Homo sapiens: one gene and its partners. The protein of the gene in region 3 interacts with the protein of the main gene of each other region in a biochemical or structural test. Each region holds a gene or a part of one and is shown on either strand. Other genes may lie near its edges.

The links.
Region 1: the proteins of GAS7 (region 3) and KHDRBS1 form a complex in vitro, tested with the Homo sapiens proteins (one study listed by BioGRID).
Region 2: the proteins of GAS7 (region 3) and NCKAP1 form a complex in vitro, tested with the Homo sapiens proteins (one study listed by BioGRID).

The regions. Positions count from the first base shown.
Region 1 is NC_000001.11:32,016,864-32,024,214, forward strand, and holds part of KHDRBS1 (KH domain-containing, RNA-binding, signal transduction-associated protein 1), read left to right. Parts: intron 1-7,351. UniProt on the Homo sapiens protein: Recruited and tyrosine phosphorylated by several receptor systems, for example the T-cell, leptin and insulin receptors. Once phosphorylated, functions as an adapter protein in signal transduction cascades by binding to SH2 and SH3 domain-containing proteins.
Region 2 is NC_000002.12:183,028,111-183,035,461, forward strand, and holds part of NCKAP1 (nck-associated protein 1), read right to left. Parts: intron 1-7,351. UniProt on the Homo sapiens protein: Part of the WAVE complex that regulates lamellipodia formation. The WAVE complex regulates actin filament reorganization via its interaction with the Arp2/3 complex. Actin remodeling activity is regulated by RAC1.
Region 3 is NC_000017.11:10,188,517-10,195,985, forward strand, and holds part of GAS7 (growth arrest-specific protein 7), read right to left. Parts: intron 1-7,469. UniProt on the Homo sapiens protein: May play a role in promoting maturation and morphological differentiation of cerebellar neurons.

The DNA of each region.
Region 1 (7,351 bases), on a different chromosome or scaffold from region 3:
TGTATCTTCTATGCCTTGAAGAGTGCTGCACAGAGTGGCCTCTTATTAAATATTTCACGAAATAATACATATTCACCTTCATTGAAGATGGGACTGATGAAAAAATGATGACAGCCGTGCACGGTGGCTCACACCTATAATCCCAACACTTTGGGAGGCTGAGGCAGACGGATCACTTGAGGTCAGGAGTTCAAGACCAGCCTGGCCAACATGGTGAAACCCCGTCTCTACCAAAAATACAAAAATTAGCCGGGCGTGGTGGCACATGCCTGTAATCCCAGCTACTTGGGAGGCTGAGGCAGGAGAATCACTTGAAACCGGGAGTTGGAGGTTACAGTGAGCCCAGATTGCACCATTGCACTCCAGCCTGGGTGAAGAAGCAAGACTCCGTCTCAAAAAAAAAAAAAAGACAAAATTTTGAGGGATGTAGATTTTGAATGTAGACTTCTATGTTAGCCAGATTGATATTCAGCTGTGATGACTGTCGAATGTATCTGCAGACATAAGGATTCAATCATCCATCTTTGTTTTCTGGAAGAGAAATAATTTACCTTATTGTGTTAATATATTTATATACTAAGTAAAATGCTGTTGTATATATTCGAATGTGTCTGCAGACATAAGGATTCAATCATCTATCTTTGTTTTCTGGAAGAGAAATAATTTACCTTATTGTGTTAATATATTTATATAGTAAGTAAAATGCTGTTGTATAGATACCAGTGTTCTTTTTCTACTTTTTTTTTTTTTTTTTTTTTTTTGAGACGGAGTTGCACTTTTGTTGCCCAGGCTGGAGTGCAATGGCGCGATCTTGGCTCACCGCAACCTCCACCTCCCAGGTTCAAGCAATTCTCCTGCCTCAGCTTCCCTGGTAGCTGGGATTATAGGCATGTGCCACCACGCCCGGCTAATTTCGTATTTTTAGTAGAGACGGGGTTTCTCCATGTTGGTCAGGCTGGTCTCAAACTCCCGACCTCAGGTGATCCGCCTGCCTCGGCCTCCCAAAGTGCTGGAATTACAGGCATGAGCCACTGCGCCCGGCCTATTTTTCTACTTTCTACAATTAGGGAAATACAAGTTAGTATAAGTGACTCAAGAATAAACATTTTGAATAGATTAGCAATCTGCAAAAGATCTTGGAGAGATACTCAAAAATCCATCCTTCAAAAGCATACAGTGGAAAACATTTACAAAGTCTGTTGAAACTTCAAAATAGTTAATTCCTTTATTTACAGTATTCTCTAGAAATACATTAAGACCTTCCCAGTTCATTCTACAGGGCTAGCAAAACCTGCTTTTAAAACTGGAAAATAAGGGCCGGGCCTGGTGGCTCATGCCTGTAATCCCAGCACTTTGGGAGGCCGAGGCAGGCAAAGCACGAGGTCAGGAGTTCGAGACCAGCCTGGCCAACGTGGTGAAACCCTGTCTCTACTAAAAATACAAAAAATTACCCCTGGTGTGGTGGTGGGCGCCTGTAATCCCAGCTACTCAGGAGGCTAAGGCAGGAAGATCATTTGAACTCAGGAGACGGAGGTTGCAGTGAGCCAAGATCGCACCACTGCACTCCAGCCTGGGCGACAGTGTGAGACTCCGTCTCAAAAAAGCAAACAGGCCGGGTGCGGTGGCTCACGCCTGTAATCCCAGCACGTTGGGAGGCCGAGGCGGGTGGATCACGAGGTCAGGAGATCAAGACCATCCTGGCTAACACAGTGAAACCCCGTCTCTACTAAAAGATACAAAAAAATTAGCCGGGCGCAGTGGCGGGCGCCTGTAGTCCCAGCTACTGGGGAGGCTGAGGCAGGAGAATGGCGTGAACCCGGGAGGCGGAGTTTGCAGTGAGCCGAGATCGCGCCACTGCACTCCAGCCTGGGGGACAGAGTGAGACTCCGTCTCAAAAACAAACAAACAAACAAACTGGAGAGTAAGGCCAGGTGCGGTGGCCCATGCCTGTAATCCCAGCACTTTGGGATGCCAAGGCAGTCGGATCACTTGAGGTCAGAAGTTCGAGACCAGTCTGACCAACATGGTGAAACCCTGTCTCTACTAAAAATACAAAAGATAGCTGGGTGTGGTGGCACGTGCCTGTAATCCTAGCTACTCGGGAGCCTGTAATTCCAGCTACTCAGGAGGCTGAGGCAGGAGAATCACTTGAACCCAGGAGGTGGAGTTTGCAGTGAGCCGAGATTGCGCCGCCACTGCACTCCAGCCTGGGCGACAGAGCGAGACTCTGTCTTAAAAAACAAACAAACAAACAAAAAACCAGCAACACCTTTTCTAGGAATATGCTCAAAGAAACTTATACATGAGCACTTGATTCATGAAATGGTGTACCTTGTTCACAAAACATTGCAACTTGTTTCACCATTCATTGGATAATGTGATAGATTTACAACAGAAAATATTTGGCTGGGCACAGTTTCTCACGCCTGTAATCCCAGCATTTTGGGAGGCAGAGGCGGGTGGATTAACTGAGGTCAGGAGTTTAAGACCAGCCTGACCAACATGGTGAAACCCTGTCTTTACTAAAAATACAAAAATTAGTTGGGCGTGGTGGCAGGTGCCTGTAATGCCGGCTACTTGGAAGGCTGAGGCAGGAGAATTGCTGAAACCCGGGAGACAGAGGTTGCAGTGAGCTGAGATCTAGCCAACAAGTGAAACTCAATCTCAAAAAAAAACAAAAAGAAAGAAAGAAAGAAAAAGAAAATATTTGTACAGCAGTGAAAATGGATGAACTATAGCTGCAGGCAACAACATGGAGAAATCTCCAAAATCTAATGTTATATGAAGAAAGTACATCCCATAAGACTACATACAGTATAATACTATTTCTATAAAACAAAGCCTAGTAAGATAAAGCAGAATATCATTAAGTATACATTTATCTGTGATATTGCAGGTTTTGTTTTTTTGTTTGTTTGTTTGTTTTGAGATTGAGTCTCGCTCTGTCGCTCACGCTGGAGTGCAGTGGCGCGATCTTGGCTGACTGCTACCTCTACCTTTCGGTTTCAAGCAGTTCTCCTGCCTCAGCCTCCCGAGTAGGTGGGATTACAGGCGCCCACCACCATGCCCGGCTGATTTTTGTATTTTTAGTAGAGATGGGGTTTCACCGTGTTGGCCAGGCTGGTCTCAAATTCCTGACCATGATCCTCCCTCTTCAGCCTCCCAAAGTGCCTGTGTTACAGGTGTGAGCCACCATGCCCAGCCCAATGCAGGTTTTGTTTGTTTGTTTGTTTTTTGTTTTTTACAAAACTAAATGTGCTTATTGGCTGGGCATGGTGGCTCATGCCTGTAATCCCAGGACTTTGGGAGGCCAAGGTGAGAGGATTGCTTGAGCCCTAGTGAGAGCTTGTCTCTACAGAAAATTTAAAAATTAGCTGAGAATGGCGGCACACACCCATAGTCCCAACTACCCGGGAGCCTGAAGCAGAAGGATCACTTGAACCCAGGAGATTGGTCTTAGGCTGAGGTGGAAGAATCGCTTGAACCCAGGAGGTCGAGGCTGCCTTGAGCTGAGATCGTGCCACTGCACTCCAGCTTGGGCAACAGTGAGATCCTGTCTCAAAAAAAAAACGTGCTTACCGTATCGTTCAACAGTTGCATTCTTGGGTATTTATTTCAGGGAAATTAAAACTCAACACAAAACCTGTACATGAATGTTCACAGCAGCTTTATTCATAGTAGCCAAAAACTGGAAACAAACCAAATGCCTCCAATAAACTGGCACACCCATACAGTGGAACAGTACTGTGCAATAAAAAAAAAAAAAAAAAGGAACTGTTAATAAATGCAGCAACTTGCTTGATCACAAGAGAATTAAGCTGAGTGAAGAAAGCCAATCTCAAAAGGTTACATACTATATGATTTCATTAATATAACATTCTTGAAGAAACAGAATAGTGGAGATGAAGACTATATTAGTGGTTGCCAGTGGTGAGAGATGAGGGAAAACGGTGACTGGCTATCAAAGGGTAAGGATCCTCATGATGGAACTGTTCTGTATCTTGACTGAGGTGGTGGTCACATGAGTCTGATTAAATTGCATAGAACTAAGCAAACAAGTACATGTAAAGGTGGTGAAATCCTAATAAAGTCAATTGTTAATTTTTTTTCCATGAAACCTGTACAACAAATTTTCTTATTTTAATGTTAATTTTCTGATTGTGATACAGATATGCAAAATGTTATGGGGAAAACTAAAGTATACAGGATCTCTGTTATTTCTTAGAACTGCATATAAATCTAAAATTGCCTTAAAATTAAAAAAAAAAATTTTCAAAGTTGCAAAGCTCTAAATTGTGCACTAAGGAAAAGATTTGGGAGACCATAGTCAATATGACAGAGTTTTCTACTGTCCTGGAATGTAAAAATTGAGCCCATATGAAAGGGCTTGTAACAGGCCTTTGGGGGATTTTTTTTTAACCAATACCCAGCCTTTCTATACCCATAGCCAATATTGTATATAATATATTATGAGTTTATATTTTTTTCTGGGTTGCTAATCAGTAGCTTCCATCAAATTCTCAGAGGGACCCATGATTCCAAAAAAAATAAAGAACCTATTGGCTTTGTGCTCTTGCTTGAAACAATAAGTAATTTGATAAATAAAACAAATGAAGTTGTTTTGCAATAGTAAGCTTATGGGACTTCTGATTCCAAAAGATGATACCAACAGAAAAGTTGAGAATTATAAATTTGGGGATGATAAAGTCATGTGAGTTGTTTAAGGGAAGTTGAGGGTGTTAACCATACTTTTTTGTATTTGTTTTTTTTTGAAACAGGTTCTCACTATGTCACTCAGGCTGGAGTGCAGTAACGCAATCTTGGCTCACTGCAACCTCTGCTTCCCGGGTTCAAGCGATTCTTGTGCCTCAGCCTCTCAAGTAACTGGGATTACAGGCGCATGACACCACACCTGGCTAATTTTTGACAGGCAGGCGGCACCACGCCTGGCTAAGTTTTGTATTTTTAGTAGAGACAAGGTTTCACTGTGTTGGCCAGGCTGGTCTTGAACTTCTGACCTCAGGTTATCTGCCTGCCTCAGCCTCCCAAAGTGCTGGGATTATAGGCGTGAGGCACCACACCCAGCGGCACATTTCTTTTTTTTTTTTTTTTAAGGAGATGGAGTCTTGCTCTGTCACCCAGGCTGGAGACTGGAGTGCAGTGGCATGATCTCGGCTCACTACAACCTCCACCTCCCGGGTTCAAGCGATTCTCCTCTCTCAGCCTCCTGAGTAGCTGAGACTACAGGAGCGCGCCACCACGCCCAACCAGTTTTTAGATTTAGCTAGAGTAAATCTTTAAATCTTTAGTAGAGACAGGGTTTCACCATAGTAGAAACAGGGTTTCACCATGTTGGCCAGGATAGTCTCGATCTCCTGCCCACCTTGGCCTCCCAAAGTGCTGGGATTACAGGTGTGAGCCACCGCGCCCCAGCCGGTACATTTCTTTTAATTCGGTTAATGATTATAGATGCCTGTTGTGTATCAAGCATTGTACTGTACTAAGAATTACAGACACTCAGCAATGGAAGGAGTCCAGAGATTGTTAACAACAGGCAAAGGAGGAGTGCTGTGTTTAGAAGTGTAGAACCAAGTATAGTGGGAGTCTAGAGGAGGGTATGAAATGAACCCTGACCTTTTAGAGCAGTTCTGAGAATCTTGCTCTCCTAGAAATACTCGCTCTGGATACTTAGAAAATCTTGACCATTGTCTTGTTCCTTATGCAGGCCATATCAAACGTTCAGTTGGCCGGGCGCGGTGGCTCACGCTTGTAATCCCAACACTTTGGGAGGCCGAGGCAGGTGGATCACAAGGTCAGGAGATCGAGACCATCCTAGCTAACACGGTGAAACCCCGTCTCTACTAAAAATACAAAAATTAGCCAGGTGTGGTGGCATGCGCCTATAGTCACCAGCTACTCGGGAGGCTGAGACAGGAGAATTGCTTGAACCCGGGAGGCGGAGGTTGCAGTGAGCCAAAATTGCGCCACTGCACTCCAGTGTGGGTGACAGAGCAAGACCCTGTCTCAAAAAAAAAAAAAGTTCAGTTAATGATATATTTGTATTGATTTTTTAGTTAAGCCAGACCAGTTGATAAAGTTGGTATATAATTTTCCCAGACTTCTCTAATATTAACTTTTTTTGTGTGAGTTACATCTCTTTTTCGCCCTCTCTCTTTTTTTCTTACTATTTTTCTTATTAACATTCTCTTTTAAAGTCATACACCAAGCATGTAGGAGAGCTGGGAATCAAACCCACTTTGTCTAGCTTCAAAACCCTTGTCTTTCCTCCAAGATATATTAAGCAACGTGGAAGCTTATAGTCTGGTTGGGATAAAATCTACAAAAAAAACAAAAGTGGGGGGTGGGAAAGGTTAAGTTATAGTAAAAGATGAAGGAAATTTTGAAAGGTTAACTGAATTTACTTTCTTTGGTATAAGAAGTGACTTGGGTTTAAGTATCTGCTATGTCACTAATTAGTTTTGAGATCTTGGACAAGTTATATAGCTTTTCTGAGCCCGGGTTTCTTCATCTGTCAAATGAAGATAATACTGGTTACAAAGACAAAGTGAAATAATAAATACAAAATTCCTGACGCATAGAAGGCATTGGATAAGATATGATTATTCTGAGTGGCTGGGAAACAAATGGGTCACCTCTTGTGTTGTTTACACCTCAGCTTTGTTTTCTTTGGCCCTTGGGATATCCAAGGTCTCCAGAGACCCAAGCAAAGATTACTTAAAGGAGTCAGTTCCAAAAGGGTTGTCTAGAAAGTACTTTTGCCTGAGGTTAAACCATTTTTAGGAAGCTCCTCCTTGATTTTTTGTCTTCCCATTTCAGTCTACTCTAGCTCTCCGGGGAAAGCAAGGACAAGGAGAGACATACAGAGTTGAAAAAGAAAAAAGAAAGACCAGACCATCAGACAACTGAACATCTGAGACACCCATAAAGCCCTTTTATTACCTTTAGGCCACATGCCAGTGTCTGAGGGTATAAATTGTACTTAAAATTTTATAAAAGTCAGCTCTTCCTTGCTTAAATAAAGTGTGCCCCCCACAAACACACACTCATCAAGAGACAATAGGAAAAGCATGAAATTAGAAGTTAGAGGCCTGGCGCGGTGGCTCACGCCTGTAATTCCAGCACTTTGGGAGGCCAAGGTGGGTGGATCACCTGAGATCAGGAGTTGAAGACCAGCCTGGCCAACATGGTGAAACCTTTTTTCTACTAAAAATACAAAATTTAGCTGGGCGTGGTGGCAGATGCTTGTAATCCCAGCTACTCAGGAGGCTGAGGTAGGGAGAATTGCTTGAACCTGGGAGGCAGAGGTTGCAGTGAGCTGAGATTGTGCCAC
Region 2 (7,351 bases), on a different chromosome or scaffold from region 3:
TCCCAAAAATAGAAAAAAAGGAAAGGTGAATACAGTGTAAAATGATGTCTAAATCCCTGAATTTTATAGCCCTACCAAAAAAAAAACTTTTTCAGAGAATTGACTAAAAGAGGTATTTCACTACACAGAAAGAAAACTATGCATAAAGTACAGAATTGAAAAAACAAAAACTCCCCCAAGTACCCTGTTTTACTTTATCTTGAGTCAGCATATTTTCATAAAACATAAAATACTATAATTTCAAATTTCAGAAGATCTAAAATAAATTTAAATATTTATATACTTAAATTTCCAGTTCTCAGAATTGGAACTTTATTCTCCATGAATATTCTAATTATAATATTTTAAAAGTCAGGATTATTTTATGTGACAGATAAAATTACAGTGATGTTAAAGGATACACTTAAACATAGTAATTAAAACCCTTGTCTCTTGGGTCAAGTGCATAATAGCCTATATGACCTTAGGCAAGTTGCCTAACCTCTCAGCCTCAGTTACCTAACCCATAAATTGAGGATATTATTACTACCTACTGCATAGGGTACACTGTTAAAATATTTAAAAGATAAGATACACATAAACTGTTTATTTAGGTGCCTGGCACATATGTAGTTAATAAATAAGTTCCAAATATTTTTTTAAATAAAACTTCTTTATATACATGGATACACATAGTGAGTTCTCAATTATGGAAACAAGATTTTCCATAAAAACAATTCTAGGCTGGGCTCAGTGGCTCACGCCTGTAATCCCAGCACTTTGGGAGGCCGAGGTGGGCAGATCGCGAGGTCAGGAGTTCAAGACCAGCCTAGCCAACACGGTGAAACCCCGTTTCTACTAAAAATACAAAAAAAAAAAAATAGCCAGGTATGGTCTGGCGCCTGTAATCCCAGCTACTCGGGAGGCTGAGGCAGGAGAATCGCTTGAACCCGGAAGGCGCAGGTTGCAGTGAGCCAAGATCGCGCCACTGCACTCCAGCCTGGGCAACAAGAGTGAAACTCTGTCTCAAAAGAAACAAAAAAAAAACTATAGGTCAGTAGTCAATTCAATATCTCTAAGTTCCTTTTAAAACACAAATCTGATGTTATCAGTAAAAATGAAGGACAAGGATGTTTCAGAAAACTACACAATATATTATCCGGGCCACAAAAGAAACATCTTTGATTAGAAACATCAAGCCTAGACCCTATGCCATTTTAAAGTATGACTTTAAAACACATCTTTCTGCCACTCTACCACAAACCCCCATACTGAGGCCTTTCCTCAAGCTATTACAGCATAGGATTACATACCACAGCTTAACTTTACATGGTTAATGTTACTATTTTTCCAAGAACTTACCATGATGCCAAAAAAAAAAAATACAGATTTTTAAAATTCCTCTATCTATTCACAAGAGATTAAGCAACAATCAAGACACCAAAAAAAAAAGACTGCTCAGTAGCTCACACCTGCAATCCCAGCACTTGCGGAGGCCAAGGCAGGAGAATTGCTGGAGCCCACAAGTTTGAGACCACCTTGGGCAAGAGGGAGACCCTGTCTCTACAAAATGTTTAAAAATTAGCCAAACGTGGTGGTAAATATCTGTGGTCCCAGCTACCTGGGAGGCTAAGATGGAAGGACTGCTTGAGCCAGGGAGGTTGAGTCTACAGTGAGCCCTGTTCACAACCACTGCAAACTCCAGCCTAGGCAAGAGTGAGACCCTGACTCGAAAAAAAAAAAAAAAAAAAGAGAGAGAAGGAAAAAAAACAACAAAATAATCAAGATACAAAAGATGTTGGAAGTAAAAAGAACATTTACTGTGCAATTATTGTGTGCAAAACACCTATGCTTTAGAAATTATCTAAATTATCACTCAACAGAAAGGAAAGGAGCTTCTGAAAAATTAAGTAACTTGATCAAGATTTCACAACTACTGACAGGACCTACAGAGAAATTCATACCTGATTCCAAAACACTATCTAAAAATATATGTCCCCTCCCAAAAATAATGTTTAAAAACATGCTCCACTTATTCAAAACCTCCGCTGCTTAAAACCTCAGGAAGCAGTTGCTATCACGGTAAAAATCTGATCAGTTCAATCCATTTTATTTTTTTGAGACAGCATCTTGCTATATTGCCCAGGCTGGACTTGAACTCCTGGTCTCAAGAGATCCTTCTGCCTCAGCCTCCTAAGTACCTGGGATTACAAGCACGCACTACTACTGTGCCTAGCTTCAGTTTTATTTTTTAATTTCTATTCTAACTCAGGAATAAAACACATTCCTTTGCTAAAATATGGAAGAACAATTATTTTCTAGTACAATAATTGGAAAAATGCCAAAATAGGGAAGAACAAAATGATTTTCTAGTACAATGAATTAACTGAAAAAATATGAACAAGATCTCAGGAGTCAGAGTGAGAATGCTATTCGTGAGGGCACAGAAACCAGCCCCATCTGAATAATGTCAAGGATGAGGAGAAAAATACAAAATGTGGCCAATTTAGACTCGAAAGAGGAATTTGACTTAATAACCAAGAAACACCACACGTTTTGCAAAATTGAAGGAATAAAGGGACAAAGATTCTTCCCTGAGTTTTCAACAAATTGAAATTAATACCTAGAGGAAGAATAGACGTTACCTGAAATTATGGAATGTAAAAGTAATATATACCTATGATTATTTTATGTTCCAATTTTTTAAATAATGAAAATATTACAGTATGAAAATTGTCCATAAGTACTGGAAAACTTTATATCAAGAGCAAAATAAGACTCAAATTCATCAGTAGTTAGCTTTCCGATTATTTTTTTCCTCCTGTGTTATGATGTATATTTTGGCCAACCGATCTGCTTTAAGTTAGCACTTTCCCTCTTAGGTAGGTAAAAAGAAAAGAGAGCAATCTACTGCTAGTAACTTGGATTAAGAGGCTTGATAACAAAGTATACTGAAATTATTGGAAATGCTTTCAAATTAATGTAATTTTATCAATAACTACCTCTTAATTGGAGCCAATAATTGAGATCTAAAAATATAGAAATCACAGTTATTGTCCTTTAGACACAAGTTCTGAGAAAGTCATGAACTTGAAAAACTTCAACCCATTATACACTTCAAAATTAGTGATTCAAAAAAAAGAAAAAAATTTAGTGATTCAAATGAGTTATTAATTACCATTCCATTTACAAGAAGATATATATGTCACTGTTGCCTTTAAACAGTTTTCAGCTTCCAATATACAGGATCATCTCAGTTTATGAAGCAAAGGTGTTTTTGCAGTTTTTTAAAGTATATATATTGTCATACCTTTGCGGTTAAAAAGAAATTGTTATTTAAAGGACTACTGTGGAACACATACTTCTGAAATACAAATAATTATTCTGTCTTAGCAGTAAGTAGATGTCAAACTGTATCAGGCAGTAAAATAGAATAGTGAGGAATGTTTCCTAAAAGGTAGTCTTGAGCTTAATTTAATCTGGGGGTGGGGGGGAATGAACATTTATTAAGTGTCCACTATGTTCCAAGCCCCAGAAATAGAACTAGTAACAACAGCCACCATTTCCTCAGCTCTTACGCTTGCTACAAGGCACTGTACCAATACTTCCTATGGATTCACTCATTTAATTCTCCTCTTAACCTATGAGGTTAATAAAAGCGTATTCCAAAAACGTGAGATAACTGGAATATCTATTTAAGATTACAAGAGTTAGAATCAATAAGACTAGCAAGGCTTAGAAAGCCAAAAAATACAGCTTGAAGCATAACAGAAGCTGAGAGCAAATAAGTACCATGGAGCTGGTTTTGCTAGTAGACAGCCAATGTGCAGCCTTCCAGAAATTTAGTTATAACCCAGACAACTAAATTAAATCACCACAGTTAATAATTAGCAGGAAAAGAAATTACAGGTATTTAAGAATTTACATTTCAGTTATTTCAGTAGTTAACATTGGAACAATTTCAGGGATTTTTTTCTGTTCAAGTTAAGTTTGGGTCAGGATCCAGATGTATGGAATTTGGAAAAACCTTCCAAGAGGATTCTATTATGTATCCCTGGCTAGGAACCACTGATCTCCTCACTTTGTAAGTAACCTACAGCCCAGAAATGTTAAATAACTTGTTCAAACTAAAAAAAAAGTATCAGAGCATTATCTAGAATCTAGCTCTCTCAACTCACAGAATATTCTGCAAGTACGGAAAATGTTTAGAAAATAAGTGAAGTTTAGAGGTTATATGCCTGCAAGAAGAGCATTACTATTTTATACTCTAACACAGTCATGCATTGCTTAATGTCATCAGATGATTTCATCATTGTGTGAACATCAGAGCGTACTTACATAAACCTAGATGGTATAGCCTACTATACACCCAGGGTACATGGGATATAGCCTACTGCTTTCATGCTACAAACCCGTACAATGAGAATACTGCAGGCAATTGCAACATAATGGTATGTATTTTTGTATCTAAATGTATCTAAACATAAAAAAAAACAGTAAGAATACAGTGTTATCTTATGGGACTACTGTGTATAGGCAGTCCATCATTTCAGTGTTATGTGAAATATCATTATGCAGAATGACTGTATTTTGTTATCTTTATACAGATGCTCCTCAACTTAACAATAGGGTTACATTCCAATAAACCTATCTTTAATTGAAAATATCATAAATCAGCCAGGTGCGGTAGCTTACACCTGTAATCCCAGTACTTTGGCAGGCTGAAGCGAGTGGATTGCTCGACCCCAGGAGACAGAGACCAGCCTGGGCAACACGGTGAAACCCCAACTCTATCAAAAAAAATACAAAAATTAGCCTGGCATGGTGGCATGTGCCTATAGTCCCAGCTACTCAGAAGGCTGAGGTGGGAGGATCGCCTGAGCCAGGAGGCAGAGGCTGCAGTGAGCTGAGATCGTGCCATTGTACTCCAGCTTGTATGACAGAGCTAGACCCTGTCTCCAAAAAAAGAGAAGAAATGCATTTAACACACCTAACCTACCTAACATCATAGTTTAGCCTAGCCTACCTTAAACACTTACATTAGACTACAGTTGAGTAAATTATCTGGTAATACAGTACACTGCAGAGTATCAGATCACAAGAAAGTATCATACCACTTCCTACTGCATGCCATAGCTTTTGTGCCAACAAGAAGTCAACAAATTGTTAAGTCAAACCATCACAAGTTGGGGACCCTCTGTATATCCTACTGAATAAAAACTCTGCAATCTGAAATAGTAACTAGTTAGTTTCTGTCACTGGCTGCCTGAAGTTTCTATTCATACTTCAAAACCAAGTACAAATGTGACTCTCCTCTTTACCATCTCTCCCAGATTATAATCCTTAATTCCCTTCTCAAGACTCCGACAATCCTACTTACACACTGCATTTTAGTTAAATATCTATACATCTCTCTCCCCACTAAGACACTAATTTCTTGGCACTAGAGACTTCATCTTAATTTACCTCTATTTCCCTCATGCCAGGGAACACATTCAATAAACGAAGAGTAAATGAATAAATTAAAAGGGAAAACCTCAATATTTGAGAGTAACTGAAAGAATAGCTCATATGATGGCTTATAAAACAGTTTTAAAGATGCAATTTTATTACTATCTAAAATAGTCAACTATGCAATAACAAAGCATTTTCCAGTATGGGTTCTTCTACTTAAAACAAGAGAATCATTTCAAACTGGCACATATACAACCCTACTTACAAACTAACAATTCAGTAGCTTATAAAGTTATAAAGATGGGCAGACAGTGAATTTTTGAAGTCACTCATTTATGTTATGTTTGAGTTTTTGACAATAAACATATATTCCTCTGGTAATCATTAAAAAATTTTAAAGTTACTTAACAATTCCATAAAGGAAACAAAAGATGGATTATTTATCATTGCTACTTAAAAATTAAAAATAATTATTTTCCTAAGCATCTCTGGAACACGCTTCTGCATCTGATTGACCAAAAGAGAAAATAACACCCTAAGTGGAAACAAATACAATACTGAAAGGGAAGACTAAAACCAGTTCCCCTCCCTTTACCCTGCACTGCTCCCTTCACAAACATCTTTTCTTCCCCCACTAAATAAGCAGATACTGGCTAAAGACTTTCAATTTTACAATGCTAGTCCTGTTAAACTTTTCCTTAGAAAATAAATTTATCCAAAATAATGAGAAAAGGATAGGGAAAAAAAGAAAAATATTCCTCTAATGTTTTTAAAGAAGTAAAACTGCATTTAAACCACCACAATACTCCACTTTAAAAAGTTTGTAATAGTTGTATGGGTTTTTTTTTTTTTCTCATTCTCTGACCTTTACAGTACAGGCAGAAATTTAACAGGAGGAAAAGACGCAAGTATTAACTAAGATCTTTTTAATACAGAGATTAATCTCATGTTGGTAATGGTGGAGGAAAAGAAAGGAGAAGGAAAAAAAGAAGAGAGTAAACCACACACACAAAAATTTAACTGAGCAAAATGTTTTCTTTGGGTATTTGGCAGTTTTGTTGAACAGTTATACAATTTCAGAAAAACAATGTTGCCCAAAAGAGATGCTCAGATTCCTAAATACTATTTTCACATATTACCATCCTCTACCTTCAGAAGCAATTCTGTGAAGTATGTAGGGCAGGCATTATGCTCCCTACATTACAGAAAACTAAACTGAGTTCAGTTATTGTTTAAAATGAAACATAATTTCTACTCTACTACTTCACCATAAAATCATAAAGATAGAGCTGGAATAGACTTTAGTGTTCCTTTTACAGTTAATTTTCCCCATTTTACAGATGAGGAAAAGTGAAGCTCAAGAAAGTCAAATTACTAACCAATGTTAGAGAACTCTCAGTGACAGAATGAAGATTGGAATGCAAGTCTCTTAACTTCTGGCCCAGTGCTCTTAATCCCACCACCACACAAGTTGCCATGCTGGAACCTTTAAAAATGTTACAAATCTCTACATGAGTGAGTCACATTATTAGGTCTGCAAAAGGGAAACCATATATTTAAAAACAAAAAAAAAGGAATTAAGCAACAAATAAATTTAAATGTAAAGCTACCAACAACCTTCAAGTCTTTTCCCTAAAATCCGCTTTTATGTGTTCCTACATCCTCCGTCAAACTACAAGTTCCCTAAAATTCCCATAAATTGTAAATATTAAGATCTCAAAATTTTTGACTGATGAAATTAAAAAAAAAAAACATTCTTCAGTAATCATGCTCCAACTTCCCTAATAAGCGCCAAAGCATATTACTGACAATAATAAGTTATTTTACTTAACTATTTTTCATTGTATATGTTCACTAAAATATCATTTCCACTGTATACTTCCAATTGAAACAGAGTAATTAGATCTGGTAGACAATC
Region 3 (7,469 bases):
GCCAATACCATTTTTTTTTTACATATTTCTGTCTTCAAGCTGTTTTTTAATTAAATTTGCAATTATTCAATCACTGGCGAGACTAAATAGTTGAGGACTTTTTATATGGTTTTGTGTGTGTGTGTGTTCATTTGTTTTAAGAGACAGAGTCTCACGCTTTCACTCAGGCTAGAGTGCAGTGGTGCAGTCTTGGCTCACTGCAGCTTTGACCTCCCGGGTTCAAGCGATCCTCCCACCTGAGCCTCCTGAGTAGCTGGGGCTACAGGCATGAACCATCACACCCAGCTAATTTTTTTGTATTTATAGAGAAAAAATTTGGGTTTCCCCATGTTGCCCAGGCTGGTCTTGAACTCCTGGGCTCAAACAATCTGCCCACCTTAACCTCCCAAAGTGCTGGGATTATAGGCATGAGCCACCATGCCCAGCCTGTATATGTTTTATTATGAAGTGTCTATCCAAGTTCCTTGCCCATTCTTATACTGATATGTTCCTCTTTGTTTTGGGTTTTGTTGTTTTAATTTATAAAAGCACTTTCTACATTAAGGAACTTTTTCCAAATTTGTATTTGCCTTTTACCTCCTTTTTTTTGGGAAGAGATTTCTAGTGGCAGAATAAAGGATGGACAGATGGGGAAAATACAAAAGGGAAAAAGTGCATTACAAGTGACCTGCAAGAAGTGAGACCCCCTGAGGTTCCCTTACTCCCTCCGATCAACACACCAGCAAGACCTGTTGACACTAGCTGCAACATACATTCCAAATCCACACACCTCTCACCATCTCCACTTCCACCACCCTGCTCTGAGCTTCCCAACTGGTCTCCTTGCCTCCCCTCCCTGTTTTCTTCAAATCCATTCTCCACCCTGCAGTCTAGAAGAGCTTTCCAGAACGCATCCGAAGATGCCACCCACTTCAATCAAACCAAAGGCTTTTCCACTGCATTTAGAAAATGACCCATCTCCCCAGGTTCTATCTCCTTCCCCGGCACACCCCCAACCCCTCTCCCCCTACTTGCCACTCTAACCATTCTGGAATATTCTGGCTCTCCCAGGTTTATCAAACACACTCCTCTACTCAGGGTTATGTACATCTGCAGTCCCCCTCAGCCTCAAATTATTTTCCCCCAAATAGTCACATGGCTGGCTGGGCACAGTGGCTCAAGCCTGTAATCCCAGCACTTTGGGAGGCCAAGGAGGGTGGATCACTTGAGGCCAGGAGTTGGAGACCAGCCTGGCCAACATGGCAAAACCCTATCTCTACTAAAAATACAAAAATTAGCCGGCTGTGGTGGCGGGTGCCTATAGTCCCAACTACTTGGGAAGCTGAGGCATGAAAATCATTTGAACCCAGGAGGTAGAGGCTGCAGTGAGCCGAGATCACACCACTGCACTTCAGCCTGGGCAACAGAGCAAGATTCCATCTCCCAAAAAAAAAAAAAAGTTGAAAACAAATCAAAAGAAGAATAATACTTCACGGCCCATGAAAATTATAACAAATTCAAATTTCAGTCCATAAATAAAGTTTTATTGGAACACAGGCACGCCCATTGGCTTTCGGATTATCTCTGGCTGCTTTTGCACTACAGCAGCAGAGTGGATTAGTTGTGACAGAGACCATATGGGATGCTCTCACTGCTTGTCACTGCCTCTGGCGCACTACAGATCACACCGATGCAGCCGTAACTCAGTTTTGCCTCATGGCCCACACAGCCTAAAATGTTTCCTGGCCTTTTACAGAAAGATTTGCCAACGCAAGTTAAGAAGGAGAAGGCTTTAAGAAATGTTTCTGGCCGGGCGCAGTGGCTCATGCCTGTAACCCTAGCACTTTGGGAGGCCAAGGCGGGCGGATCATGAGGTCAGGAGTTTGAGTCCAGCCTGACCAGCGTGGTGAAACCCCATCTCTATTAAAAATACAAAAATTAGCCGGGCGTGGTGGTGCGTGCCTGTAATAGCTACTCAGGAGGCTGAGGCAGGAGAATCGCTTGAACCCAGGAGGTGGAGGTTGCAGTGAGCCAAGATCGTGCCTTTACACTCCAGCCTGAGCGACAGAGCAAGACTCCGTCTCAAAAAAAAAAAAAAGAAAAAAAGAAATGCTTCTAAGGAAGAAGGGAAGGGACGAGGCTTGCTAGCCTACTGAACAGGAGAGGAAAGGTAAGGGGAGAGATATCAGGGAACTTGGTGGACAGATGGTGGTGACATTCACTAAAGTTTAGAGCAGGGGTGTCCAATCTTTTGGCTTCCCTGGGCCACACTGAAAGAAGAAAAATTATATTGGGCCTCACATAAAATACACTAACGCTACTATAGCTGATGAGCTAAAAAATATATATCTCACAAAAAAAAAAAACCCTCATGTTTTAAGAAAGTTTACAAACCTAAGAACAGGCACGGTGGTTCACGCCTGTAATCCCAGCACTTTGGGAGGCCAAGGCAGGTGGATCACCTGAGGTGGGAAGTTCAAGACCAGACTGACCAACATGGAGAAATCCCATCTCTACTAAAAATACAAAACTAGCCGGGTGTGGTGGCGCATGCCCGTAATCCCAGCTACCCAGGAGGCTGAGGTAGGAGGATCGCTAGAACCCAGGAGGCAGAGGTTACAGTGAGCCGAGATCACGCCATTGTACTCCAGCCTGGGCAACGAGAGCGGAACTCCGTCTCAAAAAAAAAAAAAGAAAGTTTCCAAATTTGTGTTGGGCCCCATTCAAAGGCCATCCTGGGCCACATGTTCCACAAGCTTGGTTTAGAGGTTGGGAACAGAAGGCAGTGAAGAGGCTGGGCACGGTGGCTCATGCCTGTAATCTCAGCACTTTGGGAGGCCAAGGTGGGAGGATCACTTGAGCCCAAGAGTTTGAGACCAGTCTGAGAAACATGGTGAAACCCTGTCTCTACAAAAAATACAAAAATTAGCCAGGCATGGTGGCAGGTGCCTATAGTCCAAGCTACTTGGAGGATCGTTTGAGCCCAGGAGGTCAAGGCAGCAGTGAGCCATGATCATGCCACTATACTCCAGCCTGGGCAACAGAGCAAGACCCTGTGTCAAAAAAAAAAAAAAAAAAGGCAGTAAGGAGAGGAGAGAGGGCTGGGCACGGTGGCTCACGCCTGTAATCCCAGCACTTTGGGAGGCTGAGGCGGGTGAATCACAAAGTCAGGAGTTCGAGACCAGCCTGGCCAACCTGGTGAAACCCCACCTCTACTAAAAATACAAAAATTAGCCAGGCATGGTGGTGGAAGCCTGTAATCACAGCTACTCAGGAGGCTGAGGCAGGAGAATCACTTGAACCCAGGAGGCGGAGGTTGTAGTGAGCCGAGATCACGCCACTGCACTCCAGCCTGGGCAACAAAGCAAGACTCCATCTCAAAAAAAAAAAAAAAAAAGAGGAGAGAGATGATGAGTTTAGTTTTGACATATGAAATTTGAGTACCTAGAGGTTGAATCTGAAAACCAGCTCCAAGCTCAAGAAGAGTAGTAGACGGAGAACTAGGAAGTTAAACTAAAAACAAATTCTTAAAGATGGTAGGGAAGACAGAAAACGTGAAGAAAGGAGGTGGGTGGATCCTCTTAAGACTCCTCAAAAACTTCTCACAGTTCATATACCTACTGCAACTAAACTTTCACAACGTCACAACATGTTCTGGTCAGCCAAGGAAAAGCCAGAGAGATCTGCCAGCCGCCACTTCTTCTTCTCGCCATAGGCATAAATACCACCCCAGAAGCCTCGCCATTGCAGGGAGACAGAGAAATATACTAATTTTGCATTTAAGTACAGAGGAATCCCTCCTGACATTTTGTTAGAAAGCCTGTCATGTGTCGCCTTGCTGCTGTGAGTAATAAGACAGCACAGTCCCCTGGGCTGGCCTGATAATAGTCAAAATACCTTACATGTACACAAGGTTTCCTGGTTTACCAAAAAACATTTTCTTTCACCAGCGAAGTGAGGATCAGTATCCGTGTTCACAGACAAGGTCTACCACACCATCAGAAAAAAGCTGGGCTTTTCCAGACTGAGAAGAGTACGTGAAGGTCAGCCTCTCATTCATGTTTCTAGGTGGTAACAGACATCAGGGATCCACAGAGCGGTGAACAGATGTCAGGGATTCCCGCCGACTTGTTGCTAAGGGAACTTTTGTGAAAATGCCCTGAATCCACTCAATCCATAAGCCTTGCTCATTGCTTTAAAGTCCTGTGGGGTAGCCACTGACCAGTCCAGCACACAAGTGTGACAAAAGAGGTGGTTCCTTCTGAGCTGAGGCTGACAGAGTGGTGGGCCAAAGGTCATTTTCTAACACCAGGAGCTACAAATACTGGCCACAGCCCCCATACCAAGGAGGAGGGTGATTTAGTGAAGATGTCAGAAAGCACGCTGGTCTTTTCAGTCACAATTACCCACCCCTCCGAGCCACAAGCCCTAATTGCACCTTTTGTGAACAGAGTTGATGACTGACTGAAAAATACTAGCATGAGGGACAAGGTCACACTCATTTTGGGTGATTTTCATGTTGCAGAAAGAAAGGAAAAGGCTCTGTATTAAAATCAATTTGTGTAATATAGCAAACATCTATTAGATGTCAGGGAGCTCAGATCCACTATGTCTATGAATCATCAGCACTGAACAGCCCTGGCCTAAAAAAAGCTGGACTGGTATGTCAATGGCTTAGTGGACAGGCCCAGAGCCAGGCAAATCTGATTTCAAATTCCAGCTGCATCGTTTATCATGTGGCCTTTAGAAAGAAACCTCTAGAGTCAAAAAAAAAAAAAAAAAACCCTCCAAGGATTGCGATAGAGGTAGAACTGCCAAGTCTCTGCATTTTACCTCCCTCTTGGGGTTCTCTCTCTCATCAGTCTGGCCCAGCACTACCTCCTCACTAATGGATCATCTGTCCCATGTATGTTCTCCCTAGCCTTCTGAGGGAGCTAGTCTGCAATATGGCCCTCGATGAACCACGCCTCCCTCATAACCGCACCTGTACCCACCTCCCTTCCAAATTGACTCTGGACAGACCTGTGACTACTTTCCCAATAGAATGTGGCAGAAACGATATGCCAGTTCTGGGCCCAGACCTTAAGAGGGCCTGGCAATGTATGCCTTTGCATTCTTAGAAGCCAGCTACCACATAACTCCTGAAGAGAAAGGCCATGTGGAAAGGCCCTGGAGAATGAAACACTACATGGAGAAAGGCGCCACATGGAAGAACATCAAAGCACCAGACAGGTGAGTGAAGATGACATTTTGGAGGCTGCAGTCTAGTTGAGCCTCCAAGACTCTGCCCCAGCCACCATCTGATTGCAACTGCATGAGAGACACTGAGACAGACCAGCAGAAGAACCACCCAGCTGAGCCCCGTCAATCCACAAAACCATGCCAGATAATAAGAAATTGTTGCTTTGAAACACTAAATCTTGGAGTGGCTTGTTACATGGCAATAGATAAAACATCATTCCTTAATTATCCATAGCACAGCCCACTCTCTCCCACAGACACTCCTTATCAACTCCTGCAGCACAACTGCATGAACCCAAAATGGGAGAACAAAGGGTAGAGTGAAGAAAATCAAGTTTAACGGTGACCCTCAGCAGCCATTCTAGTTGTGCCAGCAAACAGTGTCATATTCTGTTAGTAACCCAGAAAGAAAGGAAAAGGCTCTTTTTAGGAAAGAGAAAAGGTCCAGATTATCCAGCCAGATCCTGGATTCTAAGAATACCACCTAGTTCAAAGAAAGCTCTATTTTGTTTGCATTCCAATCCCATTGTCCCCCAGAATTATTTCCCAAAAGCTCTGGGAAGTTTTGTAGATGCCTTACAACATTCCCCAGGTCCCTAATTTCTTCTCTCCATTCAAGGAAAGTACAGGCCACAGGAATTCCTGGACCCTATTAAACCCTCCAACCACTGACCTGTCCAGCCACTGGGCTTGTCCTGGTACCATGTCTTTCTCTCCAAATTTTCCCCAGGATGGAGATCTAGGATTCTCTATCCACCTTCCCCAGGAGCTATTTCTCAGCCTTGATGTACCCTAGAAAGCTGGTGGAAATATTCCCACATGTGGGGTTCCCAGGTCTATGGAGGCAATCTCAGGCCTAGCTTGGAGCTGGCAGAACATGCTCCCACAGCTCCTATCTCTGGTCTCAGGTCTCTTCCTCTACCATATCTCTCAAATGATGTTAAAAAGACTTCTCGGCCGGGCACAGTGGCTCACGCCTGTAATCCCAGCACTTTGGGAGGCCGAGGCGGGTGGATCACAAGGTGAGGAGATCGAGACCATGCTGGCTAACACGGCGAAACCTCACCTCTACTCAAAATACAACTGCACTCCAGCCTGAGCAACAGTGCGAGACTCTGTCTCAAAAAAAAAAAAAAAAAAAAAAAAAGACTTCTTAATTCCTGTCCCTCGTCATAGCAGAAGAAACCCTCAGGAAAGATTTTTCTAGTTGATTTTATCTAATAACCAGCTGTGGGCCTTGGCTGTAAGGCCTATTCCTTTTCTGGAGGTAGGTGTTTCCCTCTGCCCATCCTTTGAAGAGCTGCACCACCCCGAGTAGGAAGAACCCTTGTGGCCAGAGTCCTTGGGCCTACCAGAGACCTCTACACTTCCCTGCCTGTGCTGAGGTTTTCCTGGAAGCTGCTCTCTGGAAGCCAAGTATGTGCTATACCATTTCCTTGGAGTCTTGACCAAAGAGATTGCCCCAAAAACCAAGACCTCCTCCAAGCTGGCCTCCTCCCAAGGGCTAGCTGGCCACTGGGTCAGATCTGGTGACTCTCTTGGAGTTAGCTCCCAACTCCCCTCCCCCGTGTATGCTTCCTGCAAAGGCTGGGTCTCTCGGTTCCCCTTGCTTCATCTGAACAAGGAAGATCTCCTTGGGAAGTATCCAGTGTGCACACAGTATTCAGTGCCTCCCTCCCCTCCACCAAGATGGGGTTTCCTAGTATCACTCTTTCTATCAGGGTGAAAGTTCCGCTGGAGTAGGGAGCACATTAGAGATGCCATATTCATCTGTGTACCCACAATCCCATCCCTAGGCCAGGAGGCTAGTACAGTCCATCTGTCTGTACTTGTTTCTCCAACAGCTGCCCTGGCCTTCTGAACTCCATGCTCCCAAGCAAGCTGAGTGACAGCACCACATTGGCTGACATCTCATGAGGTTCGCCATCTCCAGTATCTATGGGCCCCCTCTCTAGTCTCATGAGTCCAGATGCTGGCCAGTCTACCCACCAGCCTGGGGACCTCTGCATTCTCTGAGTCTGCCCTTCAGGACTCACCCCATCCCAAGCAACTCTGCTTGCATGTCCTCTATCTCTACCTAGCCTTCAGCCTTGAGGTCCAACTTGCTCATGTAGGAGGTTCCCAGATGCCAAGCACCTGACCCACATGCCCCCCTGTTGAAACTGCATCTGCTTTGGCCCTGAGAAGAGTCCCACCCAGTACTTAGGATACAGGACTCGGGCCCACTGTGGGAAGACCCCCAGCTGGTT